Linked DNA regions of Homo sapiens. The protein of the gene in region 4 purifies or fractionates together with the protein of the main gene of each other region. This does not show direct contact. Each region holds a gene or a part of one and is shown on either strand. Other genes may lie near its edges.

Evidence for each region.
Region 1: the proteins of E2F3 (region 4) and NUP205 purify together in Homo sapiens (pull-down; one large-scale study listed by IntAct). This does not show direct contact.
Region 2: the proteins of E2F3 (region 4) and HLTF purify together in Homo sapiens (pull-down; one large-scale study listed by IntAct). This does not show direct contact.
Region 3: the proteins of E2F3 (region 4) and INTS6 purify together in Homo sapiens (pull-down; one large-scale study listed by IntAct). This does not show direct contact.
Region 5: the proteins of E2F3 (region 4) and NOC2L purify together in Homo sapiens (pull-down; one large-scale study listed by IntAct). This does not show direct contact.
Region 6: the proteins of E2F3 (region 4) and AFG3L2 purify together in Homo sapiens (pull-down; one large-scale study listed by IntAct). This does not show direct contact.
Region 7: the proteins of E2F3 (region 4) and NAT10 purify together in Homo sapiens (pull-down; one large-scale study listed by IntAct). This does not show direct contact.

The regions. Positions count from the first base shown.
Region 1 is NC_000007.14:135,644,917-135,647,084, reverse strand, and holds part of NUP205 (nuclear pore complex protein Nup205), read right to left. Parts: coding exon 2,067-2,168; intron 1,618-2,066; coding exon 1,489-1,617; intron 928-1,488; coding exon 854-927; intron 1-853. UniProt on the Homo sapiens protein: Plays a role in the nuclear pore complex (NPC) assembly and/or maintenance. May anchor NUP62 and other nucleoporins, but not NUP153 and TPR, to the NPC.
Region 2 is NC_000003.12:149,069,534-149,073,033, forward strand, and holds part of HLTF (helicase-like transcription factor), read right to left. Parts: intron 2,125-3,500; coding exon 2,050-2,124; intron 1,911-2,049; coding exon 1,719-1,910; intron 1-1,718. UniProt on the Homo sapiens protein: Has both helicase and E3 ubiquitin ligase activities. Possesses intrinsic ATP-dependent nucleosome-remodeling activity; This activity may be required for transcriptional activation or repression of specific target promoters.
Region 3 is NC_000013.11:51,366,037-51,369,536, forward strand, and holds part of INTS6 (integrator complex subunit 6), read right to left. Parts: intron 3,275-3,500; coding exon 2,903-3,274; intron 1,863-2,902; coding exon 1,769-1,862; intron 1-1,768. UniProt on the Homo sapiens protein: Component of the integrator complex, a multiprotein complex that terminates RNA polymerase II (Pol II) transcription in the promoter-proximal region of genes.
Region 4 is NC_000006.12:20,478,379-20,481,878, forward strand, and holds part of E2F3 (transcription factor E2F3), read left to right. Parts: intron 1-1,467; coding exon 1,468-1,579; intron 1,580-2,827; coding exon 2,828-3,047; intron 3,048-3,500.
Region 5 is NC_000001.11:952,757-956,256, reverse strand, and holds part of NOC2L (nucleolar complex protein 2 homolog), read left to right. Parts: intron 1-41; coding exon 42-162; intron 163-243; coding exon 244-334; intron 335-2,174; coding exon 2,175-2,253; intron 2,254-2,364; coding exon 2,365-2,475; intron 2,476-2,968; coding exon 2,969-3,082; intron 3,083-3,500.
Region 6 is NC_000018.10:12,356,728-12,360,227, forward strand, and holds part of AFG3L2 (mitochondrial inner membrane m-AAA protease component AFG3L2), read right to left. Parts: intron 3,325-3,500; coding exon 3,200-3,324; intron 2,217-3,199; coding exon 1,943-2,216; intron 105-1,942; coding exon 1-104. UniProt on the Homo sapiens protein: Catalytic component of the m-AAA protease, a protease that plays a key role in proteostasis of inner mitochondrial membrane proteins, and which is essential for axonal and neuron development.
Region 7 is NC_000011.10:34,136,629-34,140,128, reverse strand, and holds part of NAT10 (RNA cytidine acetyltransferase), read right to left. Parts: intron 3,488-3,500; coding exon 3,354-3,487; intron 3,152-3,353; coding exon 3,103-3,151; intron 939-3,102; coding exon 842-938; intron 745-841; coding exon 634-744; intron 1-633. UniProt on the Homo sapiens protein: RNA cytidine acetyltransferase that catalyzes the formation of N(4)-acetylcytidine (ac4C) modification on mRNAs, 18S rRNA and tRNAs.

The DNA.
Region 1 (2,168 bases), on a different chromosome or scaffold from region 4:
CACTACTGATCAACAGGTTAGTAAGAGCACAGTGTTGTGTACTATGGTCTATGACGGCGGGATTTGTATTGGCTGCTCTCAATCTCACCATTAAATTATTTCCTGAAAAATAAGTGCTGAGTGATACTTTGTACCTAAAAAGTTCTACAAAGCTAATCAAAAGACATCAGGAGTTTCCAGATCATAATGCCTACCAATCACGGAATGCTTACCATGTTCTAGGTACAACACTAGCAGCCTCACATACATGAAACCTCACTTAATTCTGACAAAACCCTCTGAGGTTGAATCCTCCTATTTCTTAGATGAAGCAATTGAGGCTCGGAAGTTAAGTAAGTTGTTCAAAGTCATATAGCTGTTAAAATGGTCAAGCTAGAGTTCAAACCAGGTGTCTGTAAGCAACCCTGAAAATCATAATCTTATTAACATACCAGGCTTTCCTTTTTACTTACTTACTTACATTCATTCATTTATTTATTTATTTATTGGAGACAAGGTCTTGCTTCACTCTTTCATTCATTTATTGGAGACAAGGTCTTGCTCTGTTGCCCAGGCTGGAGTGCAGTGGTGCAATCACAGCTCACTGCAGCCTCAGTCTCCCAGGCTCAGGTGATTCTCCCACCTCAGCCTCCCAGGTAGCTGTGACTACAGGTGCATGCCACCACAGTATGCCAATTTTTTTTTTTAAGAGACGGGGTCTCACTATGTTGCCCAGACTGCTCTCAAACTCCTGGGCTCAAGCAATCCTCCCGTCTCGGCCTCCCAAAATGCTGGGATTACAGATGTGTACCATCACACCCAGCCCTTTTACTTTAATGAAGAAAAATAAAAGAATATGAGAATAGAACCTTACCTGGTCTAAATCATGTTGGCTCACTATAGCCAGCCCACTTCTAAAATCTAGATTGGTTTCTGAGGCGAAGGAATCTAGAGATAAAAAAACAGAGTCATACCGGCTGTGCAAGTACCTATCTACCACACAGTGGAGGAACCTGATGACAATGAATAATAACAATAGCACCATGAAAAACACGGCTCAAGATTGGGAACTCAATTTTCAACTTTTAGCAAATGGAAGCCCCTAGAAAGCATTTCACTGGTCCAGACCAGGGTTCTCAGCTTTTCTCTATTTCCTTCCACCTAAGGGATCCAATATATGGCCATCAGTCACAGAGGCCCACTCCAGCAATAAGAATCAGCATAATAGCAGACCTCCTCCATTCTTCTAGAGCTGGATCAGCCCCCTAACTGCAGCAAGAAGCTAAGGAACAGCTGATGAGCAGGCTCTAGAATATTCTTATGCTCAGCACAATGTCCCGTGAACAGAAAGTAAAATGCAAGAAATAGCTACGTCTAGTGACTAAACAGCTCTTGATTCACCCAATTCACTCTAAGTAATCTGGAAACAAAAATAAAAAAAAACTGGTACTAGCTTTTCAAGGCACAAATAGGTATTTATGGTTCATTAATTTTTAGCAGAAAGTTTACCTTGCAGTCTTCTGCTTTTAAACAAGGTTCTCGAGGCAAATAAGGAATCTTGAGAATCCGTGGGCATGCAATGTAACAAGTAGTACTCCAGATGGCGCCAAAGAATAAATAGGCAGGTCTCTATGATAACTATACCAGAGCTCAGATTAAAGGAACATAATCTCATCAAATATGTTTTACACACCAGTTTCGGAGGAGAAGAAAAAAGGACAGACTGCACTCACTTAATGAGGTACCCACAGCCTCAGTCTAACAGACAGGGTCTCACTGAAGGCTCCTCAAGAGGAAGCAGCAAGGTGTGCTGAGGAAAGAGGTGGGGACCTTGGGGTCCTGTGCCAGCAGTCTCATGTCCCTACCTTCTTCCCTAACAGAAAGTGCCCATGTATTTTATCAGTATTACCAGCTACTCTAAAAGATAAGAACAAAAACTATGATTTGGAAATACATTAGGCATTTACTGGGAAAAAATTAAGTTTATCTCCTTCCACCTGGTTTTGGTGCCCAAATAATATGAGAATAAGTGAACAGTTCCTATATTTCAAGGTCATCATTCAAGTGCATGATTTCATAAAGGATACAAGAACAAAGGGAAAGCAGTTTAGCTCGATTGTTGATCACCTTCACCAAGCGCCGTCTTGCTAGAACATATTTCTGAGCAGTGGAGATTTTATCAACACCAG
Region 2 (3,500 bases), on a different chromosome or scaffold from region 4:
TCTCATTACTTCAGTACAAATCTTTTTAATATTCTGTGTAGTGAAATGGAAACTACATATTAACTACTTCTGTTGCATATCAAACTATGAGGGTTAGCTAGAGAAAAATCACTCAAGATGGGAGTTATAAGCTCAACTAGTCACTTTTTTCATGCGACACCATTTTTACTTGAATGACAACTATCAATCACGACTGAGTGTCTGAAAGATACTTTCTAGAAAATGAACAAAGTGAGGCTGTCATCTACAAAGGAAACAACTGAGCTTGTCAATGATAAAATGTGAGTTTTCAATAGAAAATTAGAATGTTGGAAAAGTTGTGTGTGACACTATGAACATAGTGCCTTCCCAAAATGTAAATGATTTTCTAATAACATCAGTGGTAATATTAATGAATGTAAGTTTTGGATATTGCATATGAAATACATCAACATTTAGTAGGTCTGCCCAACTCAATGAACCAACATTTTCTAAATGAGCAATGCCTGGTGTTATAAAATCATACATGGGTAAAATATTCATTCAATGAGCAAGATACACAAATAGATTTTAACAAAACAGGGTATAAAAAGCTCACTGATATGATTTAGCGTTCCATATTACAACAATTAACCTTTAATAAACTAATATTTATTGAATTTTGATGCAGTATATCAAAGAAATCTGCAATTATCTAAAAAGCTATTACAATACTCCTCTCTTTACAGCAACATACCGTCGTAAGGACAAATTTTCTTCATATACTTCAACCAAAACAACCTAACAGAACAGACTGAATGAAGAAGCAGGTGAGAATTCAGCTGCCATCTATTCGGCCAAACACAGAGATGTGCAAAAATGTGACAATGCCAGTTGTTGCAACAAAAATGTTAATGTTTTGGCATAGTTATTTTTCTTTTAAAAATATGCTATTTATGTTAACAAGCAATGAGTTTGTACTGCTATCTTTAGCTACCACTGCCTAATACTATAACTACTGATAACAGCACACAAAAGCAAAAGCTCTTTGAAATCAGTAATTTTTATGAGTAGAAAGGGTTACTGAGACTGAAAAATATAAAAACTGCTAGTGTAAGGACACATAAGTATCTATTTAATACTCTGCATAACACAATATTTGTGATGGAATACAATTTCACATAACATTGTTTTGTCTTTACTTTTTAAAAGAAAACCTATGAAAGACAGGTCACCCTGAATTTCAAAGAGCAAAGAAAATTGAGAAACATGGCCAGGCAGGGTGGCTCACATCTGTAACCCCAGCACTTTGGGAGGCCAAGGCGGGCGGATCACTTGAAGTCAGGAGTTCAAAACCAGCCTGGCCAACGTGGTAAAACCCTGTCTCTACTAAAAATACAAAAATTAGCTGGGCATGGTGGCACATGCCTGTAATCCCAGCTATTTGGAAGTCTGAGACAGGAGAACTGCTTGAACCTGGGAGGCGGAGGCTGCAGTGAGCCAAGATCGCGTCACTGCACTCCAGCCTGGGTGACAGAGCAAGACTCCATCTCAAAAAAAAAAAAAAGAAAACTGAGGAACACATCTTTATACCACTATTTTAACTAAAAACTACAGGAAAAACTGTGTTCTACAAAGATAGTAAGATCTAGTCCCAAACTGGTACCAACATATTCCTATCTCTTTTTACTTCAAAATTACTTTCTAGAAAATCATAATCACAAAATTAGATTTTATTAACTAAAGAAAAAAATAATTACCAAACCCATATCATCAGCTAAAATTCCTCCATGGACATTTTCTGGTCGGTCCTTCTCAGAAAAATTTGTTATTGTGTTATAGTATAAGTCATTTCGCTGTTCCCAGAATGGTGGAAGTTCTTTGCTATTTTCCCGTGACACCATCCAAGCTAGAGCTTGTTTTTGATGTGGAAGCAGTGGTGTTTCAATAGCCTATAAATAAAAAGTCATAAAGCGAAATACATTAAGCCATTCCTTTTTCACATGCAGATCCTGTGATTAAACAAAAAGTAGATTCTAAGTATATTTAAACATTCTGAGTAGTCTTAAATAAAAAATATTGGTTCAATACCTCAGCTGGTTCCATTTCATGGGTTTTATCATCTTCTTTTAAATCTTCAAACAATTTGTCAAATTCTGTTTTAAGCTACAATAAACAGCAACAAGAAACAATGTAAAACAAACTAATTAAAATAATACTTGCATTTAAGTCAGATTTGAAATCATTTAATTAACTGGCGTTAATGTCAAACGGGCCAGGAGTGGTGGCTCATGCCAATAATCTCAGCACTTTGGGAGACCAAGGTGGGAGGATCACTTGAGCTCAGGAGTTTGAGACCAGCCTGGATAACATAGTGAGAGATCCCATCTCTACAAAAAAATTTTTAAAAAATTAGCCAGGCATGGGGGTGCATGCCTGTAGTTCTGGCTCCTAGGGATGCTGAGATGGGAGGATCACTTCAGCCTAGTAGGTAGAGGATAGAGTGAACCATGATTATGCCACTGCACTCCAGCCTGGGCAAGAAAGTGAGACCCTGTCCCAAAAAATTAAGAAATTGAAATTAAATTAAATTTAAAAACCACAAACTAGTCAAACGCCAAAAAGGCACATAAATCAACTCTAGAATTACACTACTCACTGAAGAGCGAATGAACAGGTGCTTTAGTTGTTAGGAGGTAAAAGAATATAAAAGAATTTTAAGTCCCGAGTTTCAGTCACAGTTTTATCACAAATAAGCTTATATGTAAGTTTCAGCAAGACTTGACCTTTATGGCCCCATGTCTTATTCCTATAAAATGAAAGGGATGAACTAAATTTAGATTGTCTCTAAGGTTCCTTCTGCCATTAAAATTCTGTGATGCTATCAGTTGTATTCAAAATATTTTCTCAGTCCTACCAGGTCAATGACATTCCATTTATTATTACTGCAATAAGGAACTTGCCATGCACTATAGGATACTTTTATTATTATGCTAACTTAATTGACTATTTAAACTAGGTTAGTCCAATTTTATATCAACATATATGTGATACAGATATTTTTGAAAATTAACACATGAACACAGCAGCAGCTCAGAAGAAATCAGGCCAGGTCTAAAAAATCAGAAGTAACCGGGGGCTTATCTACCAGAAACAAGCTCAAGTCCTTCTAACAATAAGCAGGGTAAATATGGTAACTACAATTAGTAGATAAAAGGACTAACACTGGTAGATACAAACATCAAAAAAGTTTTAATGTTATTTTTAAATTGATCTGCATTAATTACTTTATATACTTTTTTTTCAAAGAAATTCAGCATAACTCATCCTAAATTACAAATTAGACAATGTGAAGAATTTGGAGTTAAATCTTTAGCACTGCATTTGCAAAATTACTGAAAGGAGTTAAGTCTCAGCTTCAATTTTTTTCTTAAAATTACTACTTGAACATTTAAAACATTTCAGATACAAAAATATGCCGTGCATAAACAGGAACGTGTGTGTTTTGTATGTTGGGTACAAATGTTCACGTATGGATTTAT
Region 3 (3,500 bases), on a different chromosome or scaffold from region 4:
GTTTGTCCCTAAAACACTCTAGGGCTAAACAATGGGAAAGAGGTTGTTCCTTCCACAACCGAAAAGAAAAAGGAAAAAACAAACAAAAAAACAAAAAACTAATATATTCAAAATATATTCAAGGGCTGCAAACACTCTAGTGAAATTTGGGCTCCCCAAGCAAATACTTCAATAGCTTCTTCTCATGCTCTTTGTAAGCTGAATATTGAAAGGAATGTGAACAAAGTATGAATATAATCTCCCACAAAATGGAAGAAGAAATGAAAATTGGTCAGCAGCATTTAAAAACCATGGTATTCTATTACAATTTGAGAGCTAGCAAATCAAGGATAGACATCTATAATACAGAGTATAGCAAGCAGTTAAAGTTCAAGTAACAACTTTTAAAGATTTTCAGTAACAAATATGGACAGACTAAAATTGCATCTGTATACGTAACTGCTGACGGTTTTAAGAATATCCCAAGACACTGGACATTTTATTCCTACTTCCTTGCTACTTAGAAGCTAATATAAATAGCCACCATAATACTACACAACTCTCTAAAAGGTGGCAGAAGTGAAGTACAGATACCGGGGATATAAATTCCTAATGAGGTTTTAGCTGACAGAATGTTACCATAAAGAGCATAATAGGTTAAATACTCAAAATTACATGAAAAGTTATAGCCTTATCTTGATCCTGCAAACTGGCCTATGCTCTAGCCACTCCAAAAGTACAAAAAGAAAAGAAAACCAGAAACAAAACCAACTTTATCTAAAATCTTCATGTGTAGCATAGAAGAGACAGGGGGACAAAGTATAAGTGTGTTTACATTTAGAAGGTGGGATGTGATAAGCCCCAAGTTTTCTTATAATACTAAAATCCCCAAAATCTTGAAGGGAAAATAAAAAATGTTTTTAAACTCATACAACTATGTTTTCCAGTTAATTGCACTTCTTAATTACCATTTATAACCTTTATCCACCTTCTTTACACAGTGATCCCTCGGTATGGATGGGGGATTTATTCTAGGCCTCCCTATGAACACTAAAATCCACGAATGCTCAAGTCCCTTGTATAAAATGGCCCAATATTTGCATGTAACCTATGTACATTCTCCCATATGCTCTAAATAATCTCTACATTATTTATAATACTAATACAGTGTAAATACGATATGAATTAGACTGAATTATTTAGAAAATGACAAGAAAAAAAAAGCCTGTACATATTCAATACAGATACAACCATCCATTTCCCCGCCTCCAAATACTTTCAATCTGTGGTTGCTTGAATCCAATGAATGTGGAACCCAGGGATACAGAGGGCCAATGTACTAATGATCCTGGGCTACTGAAACAATCAGAATAAGGCCCATTTGTCCAATTCTTGTCTCCTTAATTACGTTTTCCCATGTAAAAATAAATGACACTCAAGTACGTTATTTTTAGTCACCAATATTAATGTATAAAGGAGAAAAATTAAAGGTTATAAAATATTAATGTAAAGATATCAAAAAGCTACAGAGAAGAATAACAAGAATTCTCCAAGTATCCAGTAATTTGTAGGGAGAAAAGGTCCATAATTCCTGAAGAATGTATGTGTGGCTGTTTTCTAAGTGAATTTCTTTCAATAAACTAAAAAAGAATAAGAATTTATTTATATGTTGGTATGCCATATACATTTATAAACAATACAAGTGCAAAACGGATACTATTAAAATACTGCCTATATAAACTGTGGACTCATTTCATCACCATTTCATTATATGCAATAGTTTATTTACCTTGATGCTTCTTTAATGACATTTTGTAAAAATATTAGTCTTGTTTGTAAACTGCCTTGCACATGCTTCAGTAAAGTGAAGATTCTTTCATATTCTTAAAGCAAAAGAAACAAAAAGAAAAATTAAGTGCCTTTCATTTGTATTCTTATTCAATATTCTTCTTTTGCAGTTTATGATATTAAGATATACTGAGATAAAAACATTCTACATAAAAATTTCACCACTCATTAGAGATTTTATATTTTAACATATATGTAAAAGTAAGTACACAGCAACAAAGATAAAACAACTAATCAAACCCTGCTTTGTAAGTAAAAGTTCCTATTAAGGTATCAAACATAAAGCTTAAAAGGATGAGTAAATAGCTTTATGGTAGTATCACTAAAAAATAAGAACAAGTGGCCTTTACAAAACTCCATCCTTACAGTTTAAAATTCTAACAGCTAACATGGGGGTAACTGGGAAGTGGGGGTAAAAACCAGACAGGTTAAGAGTGTTATTTCAGTTTAAAGTTTTCATATGAAACTCTGCAAGGGCTATAAACGTCTGAACTCCAAGGACTGATTTGTTCCCATTTCTGGACCACCCAGGTCATTCTACTACCCCAGGGCAAGTGATCTGTTAACATCCTCTAAATGAATGCCAATAATACTGAACTTTTTCCCACGAAGTTCTTTTGTGTTCATATACCAGAGAGCTTTCATAACTTTAGTTTTTTGGCCTAAACATATCCTATAATATCACAGTTTAACTACTAAACATAGTGGTAGGCACTATGACAAGAACTTTACAGACATGAAGTCATTTAATTTTCACTATATCTCTTGTGAGCTAGCTGCTATATTAAAATTCCATCGTTGGTCAGAATATTCAAGACTATGGGTTCCTGTCAATTTATCTGTACAGTGTTGCTCTGCTCTCAGTCCCTGCTGCCTACCACCATACCTAGTACCTTGGAAATAGAAGATATTTGGTGTTGGTCAGATGAATAAAGGATCTTAACTGAGATGTTGTTCAAGACAGATCTAGAATCATATGTATTCTTTTACTACAGTTACTTGACTTTTTTTTTCTTTTTTGCTTTTTGAGCACATACAGAAATCAGATCTGAGGTTCGTCTCTTATTATACATACTTCTTCCTGGCTTTCGGATCTCTTTCATTATTTGTGCTTTTAGTTCAGTATTGACCTCTTCATGGCTTCTGCAATGCATCAATTTCTTTCCTTTGTTGAGTGAAGATGCTGGTATGTTCTCTTCAGCACATTGTTCTTTATCTCTTGGCTCCTCATGATTTTCTAAAAATCCACCAACAGTGAGGTCATTGGTTCCTAAATGGTCATGACCAAGAGCCTCCATATGATTGGTTGGCCGTTCCAGTAAACTGGCTGGAGAAGATGCTGAAAATTCCGTATCCATAGCATTTGGTGTAATGTCTGATGAAAGTTGGTCTGCAACATGATTTTCAACCACATCATGTATTATCGAATCATTAGTGGTTTCTGAAACTAAAAACAAAGATACGGGGAAAAAATTATGGGATCCAGTCTCAAAGCATACAGTAAATAAAGCTACAAAAGAACATTACTACAGCAAGTCAACTGTTTTCCTTGACTAATGCAAGTTAACAAATAATGTGATATAGTTTTTAAGCATTGCCAAAGATACGGTAGATTTCAATGTGACACATACACAGTATTTACAAAATATTTACAATTTTTACCCTTGGAGGAA
Region 4 (3,500 bases):
GGATGAGCTAGTAACCAGTGGCTATCGTAGTAGACGGTGCAGGGTTAGCTGGTAACTTTCCATAGAGGGGCTGAATATCTAGCTTCCGCTGATAAGTTATTACTTACGTTTTCACATCACGGGGAGTTGTTTTGAAATTGCAACTCTCGGCTGGGTACAGTGGCTCACGCCTGTAATCCCATCACTTTGGGAGGCCAAGGTGGGCAGATCACCAAAGATCAGGACTTCGAGACCAGCCTGGCCAACATGGCGAAACCCCGTCTCTACTAAAAATACAAAAATTAGCTGGGAGTGGTGGCGTGCACCTGCAGTCCCAGCTACTTGGGGAGGGCTGAGGCAGGAGAATCACTTGAACTCAGAGGCAGAGGTTGCAGTGAGCCAAGATCGCGCCACTCCACTCCAGCCTGGGCGACAGAGCAAGACTCTGTCTTAAAAAAAAGAAACTGCAAATCTCCTCATTAGAAGAATCTGCCTGAAAATGAGCCTAAATACATATTTTTGTGCTGAGTGTCCAGTTGGTGCCATTTATTTTCTAAAACACCTGTCATACCCATACAATTAGTACTTAACAACTGCTTAACCATCTATCTTTTCTCTTGGACTCGAAGCCCCTTATCTATCTTGCTTACTAAGCCCAATGCCTAGGTACCTAGAAGACGCTATGTGGATATTTTAAAATTTAATTGGAGTTAAATTAAAAACTTAGATAAGGGCTTCTCATTTGCTAGGCTTGATAAGAAAATGGAGAAAGTAATAGTGGTTGAAGCCCAAGATTGCATGTTTGCAGTATTTGTTTTCCCGATGAAGGGCCGTTTGTAGTCTGTGACTAGTTGTGTTACGATCCAATCACCCTTTCTCTCATTGAATATACAGTATATAGAGAGAGTGATTGAAAATCTACAGAAACCCAGGCTCTGTGCCAAGCACTGGGTATACAAAGATAAATGGGAAACAGTCCCTGCCTTAAAGGAAATGAGAAACAGATAAGTCTTACAGTAATACCGAATAAGTGTCATGATACAAATAAACACAGAGTGTTTGGGGAGCACAAGGAAGGGGGTCCAACCCAGGTCGGAGAATGGGAGATGGGCAGGAAAGACTCACTGTGGAAAGGGAATTTAAGCCCCACGGCGCCTGTGATATTCTTAGCATCCAACCCCATGCCAGGCACATGATGTGTTGAATCAATGAACAAAGTGACTCCTGAACCTAATGCTGAAGGATCGCTGTGTTTGTCCATCTGGGTGTGGACGGATGATCACGGCAGGTGAAGAGAGTGTGCATGACAACCCAGCCTACAACGCTAGAATCCTGGCTCTAGGGAATGACAAGATGCTGAGTGGGGTGGAGCAGAGGGGTGAGAGCTGGCATGAGCCTGCAGCATTTGGCAGGCCAGCCCACAAACTGCCTCCCTTCTTGTTCTTGTCCATATGACCGGTGACGAGAGATCGCACTTTCTTATTACAGGCAAAGCGAAGGCTGGAGCTAGGAGAAAGCGGTCATCAGTACCTCTCAGATGGTTTAAAAACCCCCAAGGGCAAAGGAAGAGCTGCACTACGAAGTCCAGATAGTCCAAAAAGTAAGGATCTTTTCATCTCTTTCCTTATTCTCCTTGGTATGGCATTTCCAAGTTTCAAAGCTTATGGCCGGAAGGATGCCAAGGTGTGAATAATTCTGGCATGTTTTGTTCTTTTTCATTTCTTTCTGTGCTTATCCAAAAAAATAAATACAATGTCAGCAGACAACCAGTGAAAGGCTACAGAGTCACACTGGTACCATAAGGGAAGACTTCTTTTAACTGTATGTAGTTTCATTTTTCAACTCGGAATACGAACTTTTGGCACCATTCTATATCAAATTTAATTTTAACTTCCCTTAATGGACATTGCTTCAGAGTCTGAGGCAAACTGGATGTCCACGAACTATGCCAGAGTCACCAGTGTCTGTGCCGACCTCAATCTCCAGCTCAGCATATGATAGCGTAAGAATTGATTGAGCCCGATAAATTGCAGGCTGTTTCTCTTTCTATCAAATACTATTACCGTTTCTTGTGGGAGAGAGAGAAACGTAGGTTAGAAATAGCCAACTAGTCCCATTATGTATGTGTTTGCATTTAACATAAGGGCTAAATTAGACTTTGTTCTCTCTCTTCCTTTAGTTCATGCATTAGGCAATCCACAAATTGTGTGACACTAAATTAAAACCTTGACCTGTGCACCTATGGGGGAACAAGTACAATATTAAGTAAGGAAATTTCCTTTAAGAGAGATGGGGAGATTTGGCAGAAGACTTTTCCAGGTAATTATTTATCAAAATGAAGCATTGTTTGGAAAATTGGTGAACAGGTGATACACGCACACACAGATACCAGAGCCTGAAAGGCCATTTGAGATGGGTCTGTTTAAGACCTTGTCCTGCAGTGCTAGTGAGACTCATAGCCTGGCTCCATCACCGTAGGCCTCGTGTGTGCTGGTCCCCTGAGGCCACAGCACTCTTTCATTCATTTGACAGATATTTTTTAGCGCCCGCTATATGTAAATTCTTCATTGGAGCCAGGGAATGGTGTAAGTCAAGGTAGAAACTCTTGAGAAATTCAAGGTGAAATGCTTTAATCAAACCCTGGAATTTTTACCTTCCCTTCCTGCTCTAATAAAAAACTTTCATAGCTTTCTATGACTTGCCAACACCAACAGCAACGACAGCCTTGCTTCAGATACTAATACTTTGGCTGCAGTGGGAAAGAGAGCTTGCTTGACTGCAAAGACACCCTTCATTTCTTTACCTTTCCCCCTATCCCCCACCCGCTCGGTTTTTGTTTTTCTTTAAGCTCCAAAATCTCCCTCAGAAAAAACGCGGTATGATACGTCTCTTGGTCTGCTCACCAAGAAGTTCATTCAGCTCCTGAGCCAGTCACCCGATGGGGTATTGGATTTGAACAAGGCAGCAGAAGTGCTAAAAGTGCAAAAGAGAAGGATTTATGATATCACCAACGTTCTGGAAGGCATCCACCTCATTAAGAAGAAGTCTAAAAACAACGTCCAATGGATGTGAGTAGGAGTCCTCCCCATGCCCCGGCTCTGAGGGGGTCGTTTCAAACTGCCTGGTTTCTTAGTTCCTCACTTTCACATCCACGCCCACACGTTCTTTTCTTTTCTCTCCTACTGTTTTCTTCTCTCTCATTCTCTCTTCCCTCCTCAGCTTCTAAGCCAGAAGTTTGAAGTCTCTTTACAAAGAGACTTTGTTTAGATACTGTCAGAGATAAAAGGATTTATATTTGATGAGCATCCAGCAACGGCATCCTTAAAGAGGTCCCTGCAGTTGGAAAGTGGACTGCTGTTCATCTGTTACATAGATGTCTGTGTGCACCCACGTGTGTATCTGACAGATGTGTACACGTCTTCAGCTTGTTTCTAATAAGAATCTGGAAATGATGGCTTATGGGTTATCTATGTGTATACGTACAACTGCATAGTTACAGAATATCTTTATCCATGGTTCTA
Region 5 (3,500 bases), on a different chromosome or scaffold from region 4:
TCTCAGCTCCCCTGACGCCCCTGGTACTCTTGCTCCTTCAGCAACGCCTCACTCCAAAGCTGTTCCATGAAGTGGTACAGGCGTTCCGAGCAGCTGTGGCCACCACCCGAGGGGACCAGGAAAGTGCTGAGGCCAACAAATTCCAGGTCACGGACAGTGCTGGTGAGCTTGGGGGGAGCCTGGCATCCAGGCTGTCTGTTGCGTTCTCTGTCCCGTGAGTACATCCAGGCCTTTTCGTTGCAGCATTCAATGCTCTGGTTACCTTCTGCATCAGAGACCTCATTGGCTGTCTCCAGAAGCTGCTGTTTGGAAAGGTGGCAAAGGATAGCAGCAGGTAAGAGGGGAGGGGGTGAAGGGGGGTAGGGTGGAAGGTGGGTCGGGACCACACACAGGAGAAGCCAGAGGCCTTGTGGCTAGGACAGAGACATGGCAACAGAGCCAGCGTCTTCTTGGGGACCCTGAGAAGGCAGCGGGGCACGAGGGACCGTTGGGAGAGGCTGGGCACTTGGGGCCAGTTGGAGCGGCCCCACCTTCTTTCCTTCCTGAAAAGGGAAGTTGTCTGCTCAGAGTCTCAGAAGGTGTGGCGTGTGCAGCTGCCTTTGCTCTCAGATTTTCCCAGGTTAGGGTTCTTGCTCTATTTCCCTTTGTAAGAACTTGTAAGTCCTGTCCATACTCCTTGATCTCTGCACTATGACTGGCCTGTTTCCTGGAGCTGTGTGTGTCTGTAGACAGGGGCCTCATCAATGCTGAGAACCTGAGGGCCTCAACTTCCCCTTTAGAGAAAGATTGGGCAGAGAAGGCCGTGGAAGGTTTTCAGAGAAGAGAGACGCACGGCCAAGCATTTGGTAGAGCATGGAGCACGTTGGGGTTCCGGGGCTGTGCAGCCATGTGACCTTGAGGCAGTGGAGGCCTAGAGTTGGAACTGCCCCAGGACACCTTCAAAGGAAGAAAGGAGACCCACAGGAGAGGTCTCGCCGACAGCGGCTCAGGAGACAGGGGCACTGTTGCTGGTGGTAGTGGTCGGGGCTGGACGGATAGAACAGAGCCATGTCCACATGGAGGCAGTGCTGTCCGAAGGGGACAAGGAAGCTGGCAGATGGGGGTGGAGGGACAGGCAGCGATTGGGAGGCAGCACGCACTGCAGCCTGAGCCACCAGGTCAGGGACCCCTGTCGAGGCAGCAGCTGTACCGGAGGGAGTCAGGCCGTGGGGAGCAGAGCTGCCTCCTGGGTCTGGGTGGGCAGCTGCAGGTGCCCAGCAGCCAGTGTCAGCACAGGTGTGAGGAGGGTCGAGGACGGGGGGCCTTTCTGGGGCCCTGCCCTTTGTCCTTCCCATGCTTCAGCAGATTTTAGTGAGCGCCTACTGCGTGGGCTCTGGTAAATGTTTTGTTTTGTTTTGTTTTGTTTGTTTGGTTTTTGGTTTTTTTTTTTCCTTACGAGATAGGATCTTGCTCTGTCGCCCAGGCTGGAATGCAGTGATCATAGCTCACTGCGACACGTACCTTCTGGATTCAAGTGATTCTCTCACCTTAGCCTCCCAAGTAACTGGGACTCCGCCACCAGGCCTGGATAATATTTTGTATATTTTTGTAGAGACGGGGTCTCACTGTGTTGTTCAGGCTGGTCTCAAACTCCTGGGCTTGGAGTTTGATCCTCCTGCCTTGGCCTCCCAAAGTGCAGTGAGTACTGGCATGAGTCTCCACACCTGCCCTCTGATTTTCTTTTCTTTGTGCAGCAAATGTGGGCCAAAGGAAACCAGTCTGCGGCAGTTGGTGGTGCCTGGGCGACCCCAGAGGTGCTGAGTACCAGCTGCTGGGCTTAGGGACCTCGTGTGGTCTCACGGTGGGGATGTGATCAAGGGGACCTAGAAAAGGTTTATGTCTGAGAGGGAGTTGGAGGCTGGGACTTCCGGGGACTCTTAGGGCGGTGGCCAACCCTGGGCAGGGCAGACAGGAGTTCAAGGCCACTGAAGGAGGAGCTAATGCACTTGAGAGGGTCCTCCTAAGCCCCTGTGTCTGTCCAGCTGTAAGGGGCCCTGAGCTTTTTTGAGTGGAGAGACGGGGGGTCTCTGCAGAGTCGTAGAGGCTATGCTGGCCAGGGCACGCGCCAACATGCTGAGCAGCCTCGCGTCCGAGCCGTGGGGCCTCCCAGCCAGGGGTGGGTGGTCTCTCTGCAGGATGCTGCAGCCGTCCAGCAGCCCGCTCTGGGGGAAGCTTCGTGTGGACATCAAGGCTTACCTGGGCTCGGCCATACAGGTGCTATTCTGGTGGGGAGGGCACGGGGGCCTGGCTGTATCTGGTGGTCGGTCCTTTTTTGTATCCCAGAATACATGGGTTTGGGGCTTCACTGTCCCCTCCTGCCCCCAGCTGGTGTCCTGTCTGTCGGAGACGACGGTGTTGGCGGCCGTGCTGCGGCACATCAGCGTGCTGGTGCCCTGCTTCCTGACCTTCCCCAAGCAGTGCCGCATGCTGCTCAAGGTTCGTGGCCCAGTCCCCTCCCTGTGTCTGTCATGGGGTCGGGGGGCCACACGGCTACCCCCACCACATCCCACTCCTGGCCAGGGCACAGGTGGTGCCCACACTCCACTGGCTCCGCTTGGCTAGAGAGGCCACAGAAGCACCTGGCCCCCACCCCCACCTGGGGTTTCTGTCTCAGGCAGTCCCTGCCTGCCCGGGCAGCGCGGCTCAGTCCGTGAGCAAAGCCACGGTGAGGTATCTTCTTCCCGGTGTGATCTCACATACGTCGGCGTGTCTGACGTGGTAAACTTTTGTGGTCCTCTTCTCACAAGGAGCAACACACCTGTTCTGTTCACTTCTGTAACTGAGCACCTAACTCACGGCTCCCCCGAGGTGCTTTGGGAAGAGCTGGTGGCCATGGGAGCCTTTGCCTGGCTGGGGAGGGCTGTGCTGGCCCTGGGGCATCCCTGCTGAGGAGGCTGGGGGGCCACCAGTGACGTCTGACCTTCTGCAGAGAATGGTGATCGTATGGAGCACTGGGGAAGAGTCTCTGCGGGTGCTGGCTTTCCTGGTCCTCAGCAGAGTCTGCCGGCACAAGAAGGACACTTTCCTTGGCCCCGTCCTCAAGGTAGTGGTGGGCCCTGCGTCTGTGTCCCTCAGCATCTGCATTGGAAATCTCGGCCTAAGGGCAGGGCGGGCTGCCTTTGTGGTTGGTGCCCCTCACTGGACCCTCACTGCAGCTCTGAGCAGACCTGGGCCCTTGGATCACGAATGTCTCACAGAGCACCTGGGGGTGGTGGGCAGGGAAGAGAGCCCTCGGCCTTCTCAGGGCCCCACCTGGACCCTGCTTCACACAGCTTCCCCAGGGGAGGGCCTCTCTGGCTGGAGGAGGACACTGGGTGTTGGGACCTGAGGCCATGGCCAGGGTACAGTCCTACTGCCCGTCCCCAAGCCATGGGTGGCCTGCATGTGGGGACCCTCAGCCCCCAGAGGGGCCCAGTGTGCAGCAGGAGCTTCTGCCCCAGCTTCTCCCAGGCCTGAGGCTG
Region 6 (3,500 bases), on a different chromosome or scaffold from region 4:
AACTCAGATCCACTAACGGTGATGAAGGGGACATTGGCTTCTCCGGCTGTGGCCTTAGCTAGCAGCGTCTTCCCAGTGCCTGGAGGACCAGTGAGAATGGCACCCTTCAGATATGAAAAAAGAAATTACATTTAATGAGAATTCCAGAAAAGTAAATTGTGTATCCACAAATAATTACAAGATATAACTCTGTCTCTAAATCTTATTGATATATATTAAATATTACTTAAACATCTGAGCTATGGTAGAACATTTTTATATTAGTAAGAATAAAAAGATTATCAAAAATAATTTTGTTTCAAAAAATTTGGTAAGAATGTGAAATTTAAAATATTTCCTTTTTTTCCTAGGGCTGATTTTTAGACCTTTAGTCTAACAGTATGTAAAGGGTGACTTGGGCTAGGAATATACTAATAAATCTGCTAAGGTTTACTTAAATAATTTAAGAAGACACCAACACCACACTCCTGATTTATGTAATTCTTTTACTCTTTACAAGTAAAATTGGTTTTTGAGCTCAAATAATTAATAAACCCAACTTCTGACTTCTACTTTCATGTACAAATCAGTACATTTTTAGCATGGTTGGACGTGCAACTTAAAACCTAACTGTGAATTTGTTTTTATTTCCACTGACTACCCACAAACAGTATCCTCTCTTATTTATAGACATACTACCACACTACCATATCCAAATACTGTGAGGAGGTAGATAATATGGTCAAATGATATTTTTTCTAGGCTTTGTAATAAAACCTTAAGGTATTTTTAAAATTTTGCTTATTTTCTTCTTTAAAAGTTTCACAAATGAAGTAGAAATCTAACGACCAATGATGAACTTAACTTCAAAGAAAGATGTGTTTGCTCAAACAATACACTTTTTTTTTTTTGAGATAGAGTTTCACTCTTGTCCAGGCTGGAGTGCAATGGCACGATCTCGGCTCACTGCAACCTCCACCTCCCAGGTTGAAGCGATTCTCCTGCCTCAGCCTCTTGAGCAGCTGGGATTACAGGCGCACAACACCATGCCCAGCTAATTTTTTGTATTTTTAGTAGAGACAGGGATTCACCATGTTGGCCAGGCTGGTCTCGAACTCCTGACCTCAGGTGATCCACCCACCTCAGCCTCCCAAAGTGCTGGGATTACAGGAGTGAGCCACTGCGCCTGGCCCTACACAACTATTATATTAAGTTGTAGAGACAGTTAGGTGTAATGCAAACGGGTACTAAGTAAGTTATAAATTCATAAAATATGACTTTTTATCTATAGAAGTAAGACATAAAAATCAAGGAAATGATTATCTTTCAAAGGATTCCTTTAAAGTAAAATTTATTCATGGACTTTTAAAAGAATTATACCTTTTTATTCATTTACTTAATAGCTGATCCATTTAACAAATATGAAGTTAATGCTCCACGCCTAGCCCTAGGGGCACCAAGCCCTGTAGGGTACAGCCCACCACTAGCACAGTGGGCAAGAGCATATTTGCTGGAAAGGGGAAGGTGATGGTGAGTGCTGTGTCCTCTCCACTGGATCCTGTGCCGTGAACCTCAGCGCCAGCACAGGTGTCCTGTCCACATACATCCCTCGAAGGGACACTGGGTGACAGCAGAGTGTGACATTGTCAGTGAGCTACAGCGGGCCTACAGTTGCTGAGAGATAGGGCATCTAAATCAGATTGGAGGGAAAAGGAAGACGAATCAAGAAAATCTTCCAAGAGGAGGTGACACAGATATTTTCAGGAATACATACACTATACAAGACACATGCACACAGAACTGACCCAAAACGATCCTCGAGTTGGGCAGAGGCTAGCCTAGTAAGCTGAGAAAGAGGAAGGACAGAAAAACAGCTATCTATAATAAGTAATCAAACTTCACAGAATTATAACTTCAGAGATCAAGAAACATTTCAAAAAGTTAATCTTAAATTTCATTTTACCTTTGGGATTTTTGCTCCTAGGTCTTGATACTGCTTTGGGTTTTTCAAGAAATTCACAAATTCCATGATCTCTAGCTTGGCCTCCTCACAGCCAGCCACATCTTTGAACTTCACATCAATTTCATCCTTTAAGACCTTGGCAGTGGTTTCTCCGACACTGAAGAGTCCGCCCATCCCTCGGCCTGTCCGGCCAATGCCAGCAGGCCCTCTTCTGATGGTGTAGAGCAAGAAGGCGATGATGAGCACCGTAGGCAGCATGCTCAGCAGAAAAGAGCTGGGGACACACAGCGCAACACGGGTTAGGACTGGCTGCTCACCTCCAGCTTTCACATGTGGTGCAAGATATCAATATAAATATATATAGCTACACCAAGGTATACCTTCTGCACTTAATACAAAGGAGGGTAACTTGCAAGTGTTCTTCAAAGGCAACAGAATTCCCAAATAAGCTCCATGGCAACCAACTCTTCGAAATAAATGGAGCATCTGCCCAGACTTTAAGTGGGGTTACTAACATGGTCTTATTAAAGACAACCCCCAAAGAAGAAGTTCTGATGAGAGAAGAATCACCTAAAAATCCTGGAAAACTGTGAAATGTAAACATAAATGATAGTTCAAAGATGGGAATGGCACTCTTTGATACAAAGGGGTTCTTTATGCTAAAATCCTACCAAAGGTCAATGCATTGAATGTTAATACCCTAAACCACTGCTTCATCAAGATAAGTATAAATGTGTACAAAAGGAATGAATCAAAAATAAAAATAAAAATAAAAATAAAGATAAAAAGCCAGGTGTGGTGGCTCACAACTGTAATCCCAGCACTTTGGGAGGCGGAGGCAGGTGGATTACCTGAAGTCAGGAGTTCAAGACCAGCCTGGCCAACATAGTGAATCCCTGCCTCTACTAGAAATACAAAAATTAGCTGGGCATGGTGGTGGAAGCCTATAATCCCAGCTACTCTGGAGACTGAGGCAGGAGAATCGCGTGAACTGGGGTGGGGACAAAGGTTGCAGTGAGTCAAGATCATACGACTGCACTACAGCCTGGGCGACAGAGCGAAACCCCACCTCAAAAAAAAAAGAAAATGAATGAGTCATGCAAAAACTAGTGAGTTACTAATAGTTTTTTAAAAATCTGGCCAAACTGATAAAGGCCTGTTTGAGAATATAATGTATAGCCCTGCACCCAGGGACAGAACACAGTGAACCACAGGCAGCACAGTCAACAGTCTACAAAATATTATATTTGAGATTACCCATCACTTTCAGCAATGTAGACAACAGGCACCCGATTTTCTCCTTCTATGCCCAATTCCTGCTGTAAAGTTTCCAGATTCCGTTCAAAGGTGTCCACACTGCCAATATTAAACCAAACGTATTGCTATAAAAACAAAAAAACAAATATCCTAAGAATGTAGTGAAACTAAAAGGTTCAATTCACTAAACGGTTCAACTTTTTAAGAATTTTCCAGAAATACTGAAAATTTATAAATTAAAGAATAAACAATAATAAAAGACTGGCTTTAATAATGGTGGTGATTAAATGTCACTCATTGA
Region 7 (3,500 bases), on a different chromosome or scaffold from region 4:
GGTTAGGGGAACACAACTACACTCTTTCCCTGCTTTGTCACTTCATTTGGTGTCACAGAAAGTGTGTAAGCTCTGCCCAGCTCAAGATATACGGATTTCTCCATCAAAATATAATTGGCAAAAAAGTATATACACACACATATACACATATATGCATGCTATACCTAAATATTTATATATAAAATATGCAATAAAACTAATCTCTTACACATTTTTTGTTTTTTAAGTATTCAAACAATCTGTATGCACAAAGCACTTCTGTGTGCTGTTGGCTACAGAAGGCTAGCAGCATATTCTTATTACAATTTCATGAATCAGGAAACTAAACCTCAGAGATGGAGCACCTCACTCCCCTAGAGCACAGATGTAAATCGGCCTCCATAACCAACCAGCTACATGAACTAAATGGACACCTCTGACATTAAATTGCACAGCCAGAGTCTTACCATGAAAATGAAAGACAGCACAGCCTGGGACAGAGCAGGGGCCTGGCAAGCGGGTGGTGACCAGCGAGTGACTGCAGGCTAGAACCAGTCCCTCAATTTCCAGCCCAAACCCTTCCTAGGACACCACACCCACCTCCCACACAGCCAAGCCATTCCCAACCCTCCTCCCTGTCCCCACCCGGCTCACCAGGCTGGGCTGGCTTCCCCATGTTCCTGTTCTGAATGATGTTCAGAGCCAGGGAAGGAGAGAAGGTACTGAACTGGTAGGAGAGCAAGGCTAGGAACCGCCGTCGGAAATCTGTGGGGTGCCATCACGCAGAGTTAGAGGTCTGGAGGCATCCCCGGCAGCCCCCAATCACCTCATTGTCTCCCCCAAACCCCTACTCCTCAGTCACCTTTCCAGAAGGCTGCAAGCCAGCCTCCCTGGTCAGCCTCATCCTCATCAGTGAGCGTCTTCAGCATGATGCACGAGTGCTCTCCGGTCAGGTCATTCTGGGCAACACAGAGGTTTAACTGGCACCAAGAACCCCCTTTTTTTGAATAACCCATCATTGATGAAGGGTAAACACTCAGAGAAGAAAGGCTTAGTGCTTCCGCAGGCCTCTCCTTCTTTCCAGGCTGGGGGTAGGCGCCCTTCTCAAACAGCCCTCGCCTTCACCTTCCTCATATCACCTCAGTTCACACACAACAGCTGCAAAGATCACTGTCCTGCAATCTCCTCAAAAGTGTCACAGACACAGAGAAGAGCTGCTGGCTCTTCTGGGCCTGCCTCTTGCTCGGGACGTGCGGGAGGGAAATATGTGCTCCTCTCAGGTAGATGCTGAACTCAGTCATTAGGGCTTAAGCGCCACACAATCCAGTCAACATGGGTTTGATGCCTCACAGCAGGAACTCCAGGGCCAAAACCTACACCTCAGTGCTGGCAGCCAGTCTGCAAGTGCAGGCTTCTTTAGGTGTTAAAATTGTGACTATTTTTACATTTTTTACTCCATAACAACAAAGCCCCACACCATAAAAACACCACCAAGTCACAAATGAACAGTGCACAGTGCAAGACCACACGGACACACCGCAGACCACACCACAGCTCACTAGCTTGCGTTCTCCTTGCAGCTGACAGCCAAACTTACATCCTCAGCCTCCACCAAATGTACTGACAGAGACTCAACCCATCTCTGCAGCTCCCTGCCTGCACGGAAGCAGCCCAACACCCAGCAGTCCTCACCAGTCCCACTTTAAACCCTCGGACGGACACTGGACACTAGCCTCTGATACTGACTTTGCCCTCTCCAAAATCAAACCTCCAACACTTCCCTCTCAGCCGATGGACTCCCCTCATCTGGGAAGACAGAAGCACTCAGAAGACAATGTCTTCATCCTCCCAACCCCAGATCAGCCAGCCAACTGATGCCTTCCATTCCCACGCTCTCTGCCTTCCCTGTTCCGAAGGATGAAGTAGGTGGTCACCTCTCTTCCTGAATCTCGAGTCCCACCCACCACCTCCTCAAGGCCTGCACTCTGGCAGTCAGCCCCCCTCACCCATACCACTAATTGCAGGATCGAACCCAGCAGCAAAAAACATTCTCTAGAATCTCCCATCGGACAATCCTTCTTTAGCGCCCATCTCCCTCCAGCGACCTTGTTTCTCTGCTCCCTTTCGCTTCCTGAAAGAGTCGCCTGTTCCCCTTCTAGTTCTTCACCTCCTCTTCCCTCTGGCCAGGCCAAAGCCTCCACTCCACTGCAGCTGCTTCAATGCAGCTCACCGCTGCTGACAAATCCAATGGCCAGCTGTCCTCATCCTCCTCATCCTCTCAACAGGGCTGACTCCCATTCCCACTTTTTCACCTTGACGTGTGACACCACACCCGACTTTCTCTTGCGCATCAGGGCTGTTCCTTCTCAGTCTTGTATGTGCTGTGTCCTCCTCTTCATTCCTCTAAACGTTAGGGTCCAAGGAGTCACTCTCACATCCTTTCATTGGCTCCAGATATTTTTCATTCACTCAACAAAAGTATTTACTGAACACAAACTACACAGCAATTGCTACTCTAAGTGCGAGGAATACAGCAATGAACACAACAGACAAGAGCTCCGTGCCCTCCTGCAGTGCATTCTATTATGAATATGCTGATGGCTCCCAAAGCTCCATCTCTAGCCCCAAACTTCCCTACCTCCAAATTCCTGTAGTCAAATGAATGCCTAGTCCACATTTCCACTTGGATGTCCAATAGGCATCTCATATTAACATCAAAAAAGAACTCCCACTCTTCCCTCCAAATCTGCTCCTCCTGCAGTGAGTCCCATCTCCGACAGCACCTCCAACACCCAGTTTCTCAAGCCAAAACTCTAGGAATTACCCTTGATCCTCCTGTCCACTCTCCTTTCCCAGAATCTGATGAACAAGTCCACGTGTACCTCTGCCATTTTATGACTAAGCTCAACGCATGCACCGTGTAGTCGGAGAAGAAATGTGTGATGATGTGGCCTGTCACTGAGGATGGCTGTTTCCATGTCCATCAGAATAAACCTCTTCAGAGGCACAGCCACCTGCTCAGAGCGATGCAGCAGGGAGGCACTAGGGCTCTTTGCAAGGACAGGCCTGTCACCTACCATAACGGTAAACCTAAACTTCTCCTCTGCTGGATGCCTCACTCACCGGGGTCTGTCTCAGATAAACAGGAACAAATCCAGCTCGTTTCCAGAACCTGCAAAGATACAAAGACAGTAGGTCACTGTGTGTGGCCTCTGGGGAGTGGCTGATAGACACACAAGGGCAAGAGCCAGGAAGAGCACGCCACAAATAGCAGGCTAGCACCGATACCAGCTACCAACAGAGACACACAGCCCACAGAACTCTTCTTTCTCAATGCCAAGGAGTGATGCCGTGGAAGGAGGGCAGGCACTTACTTGAGGAGCCTGGGGGTCAAGCCATAGGAAACACCCAGGTAATCCAGGCGTTCGGCAGGCCTCTCATTCAATTTGAGGAGTAAAGGAGGCAGGTCCTTCCGGGGAGTGATGACCTCTTCCAACAAGCTGACAGCCTGGGAAGATGCC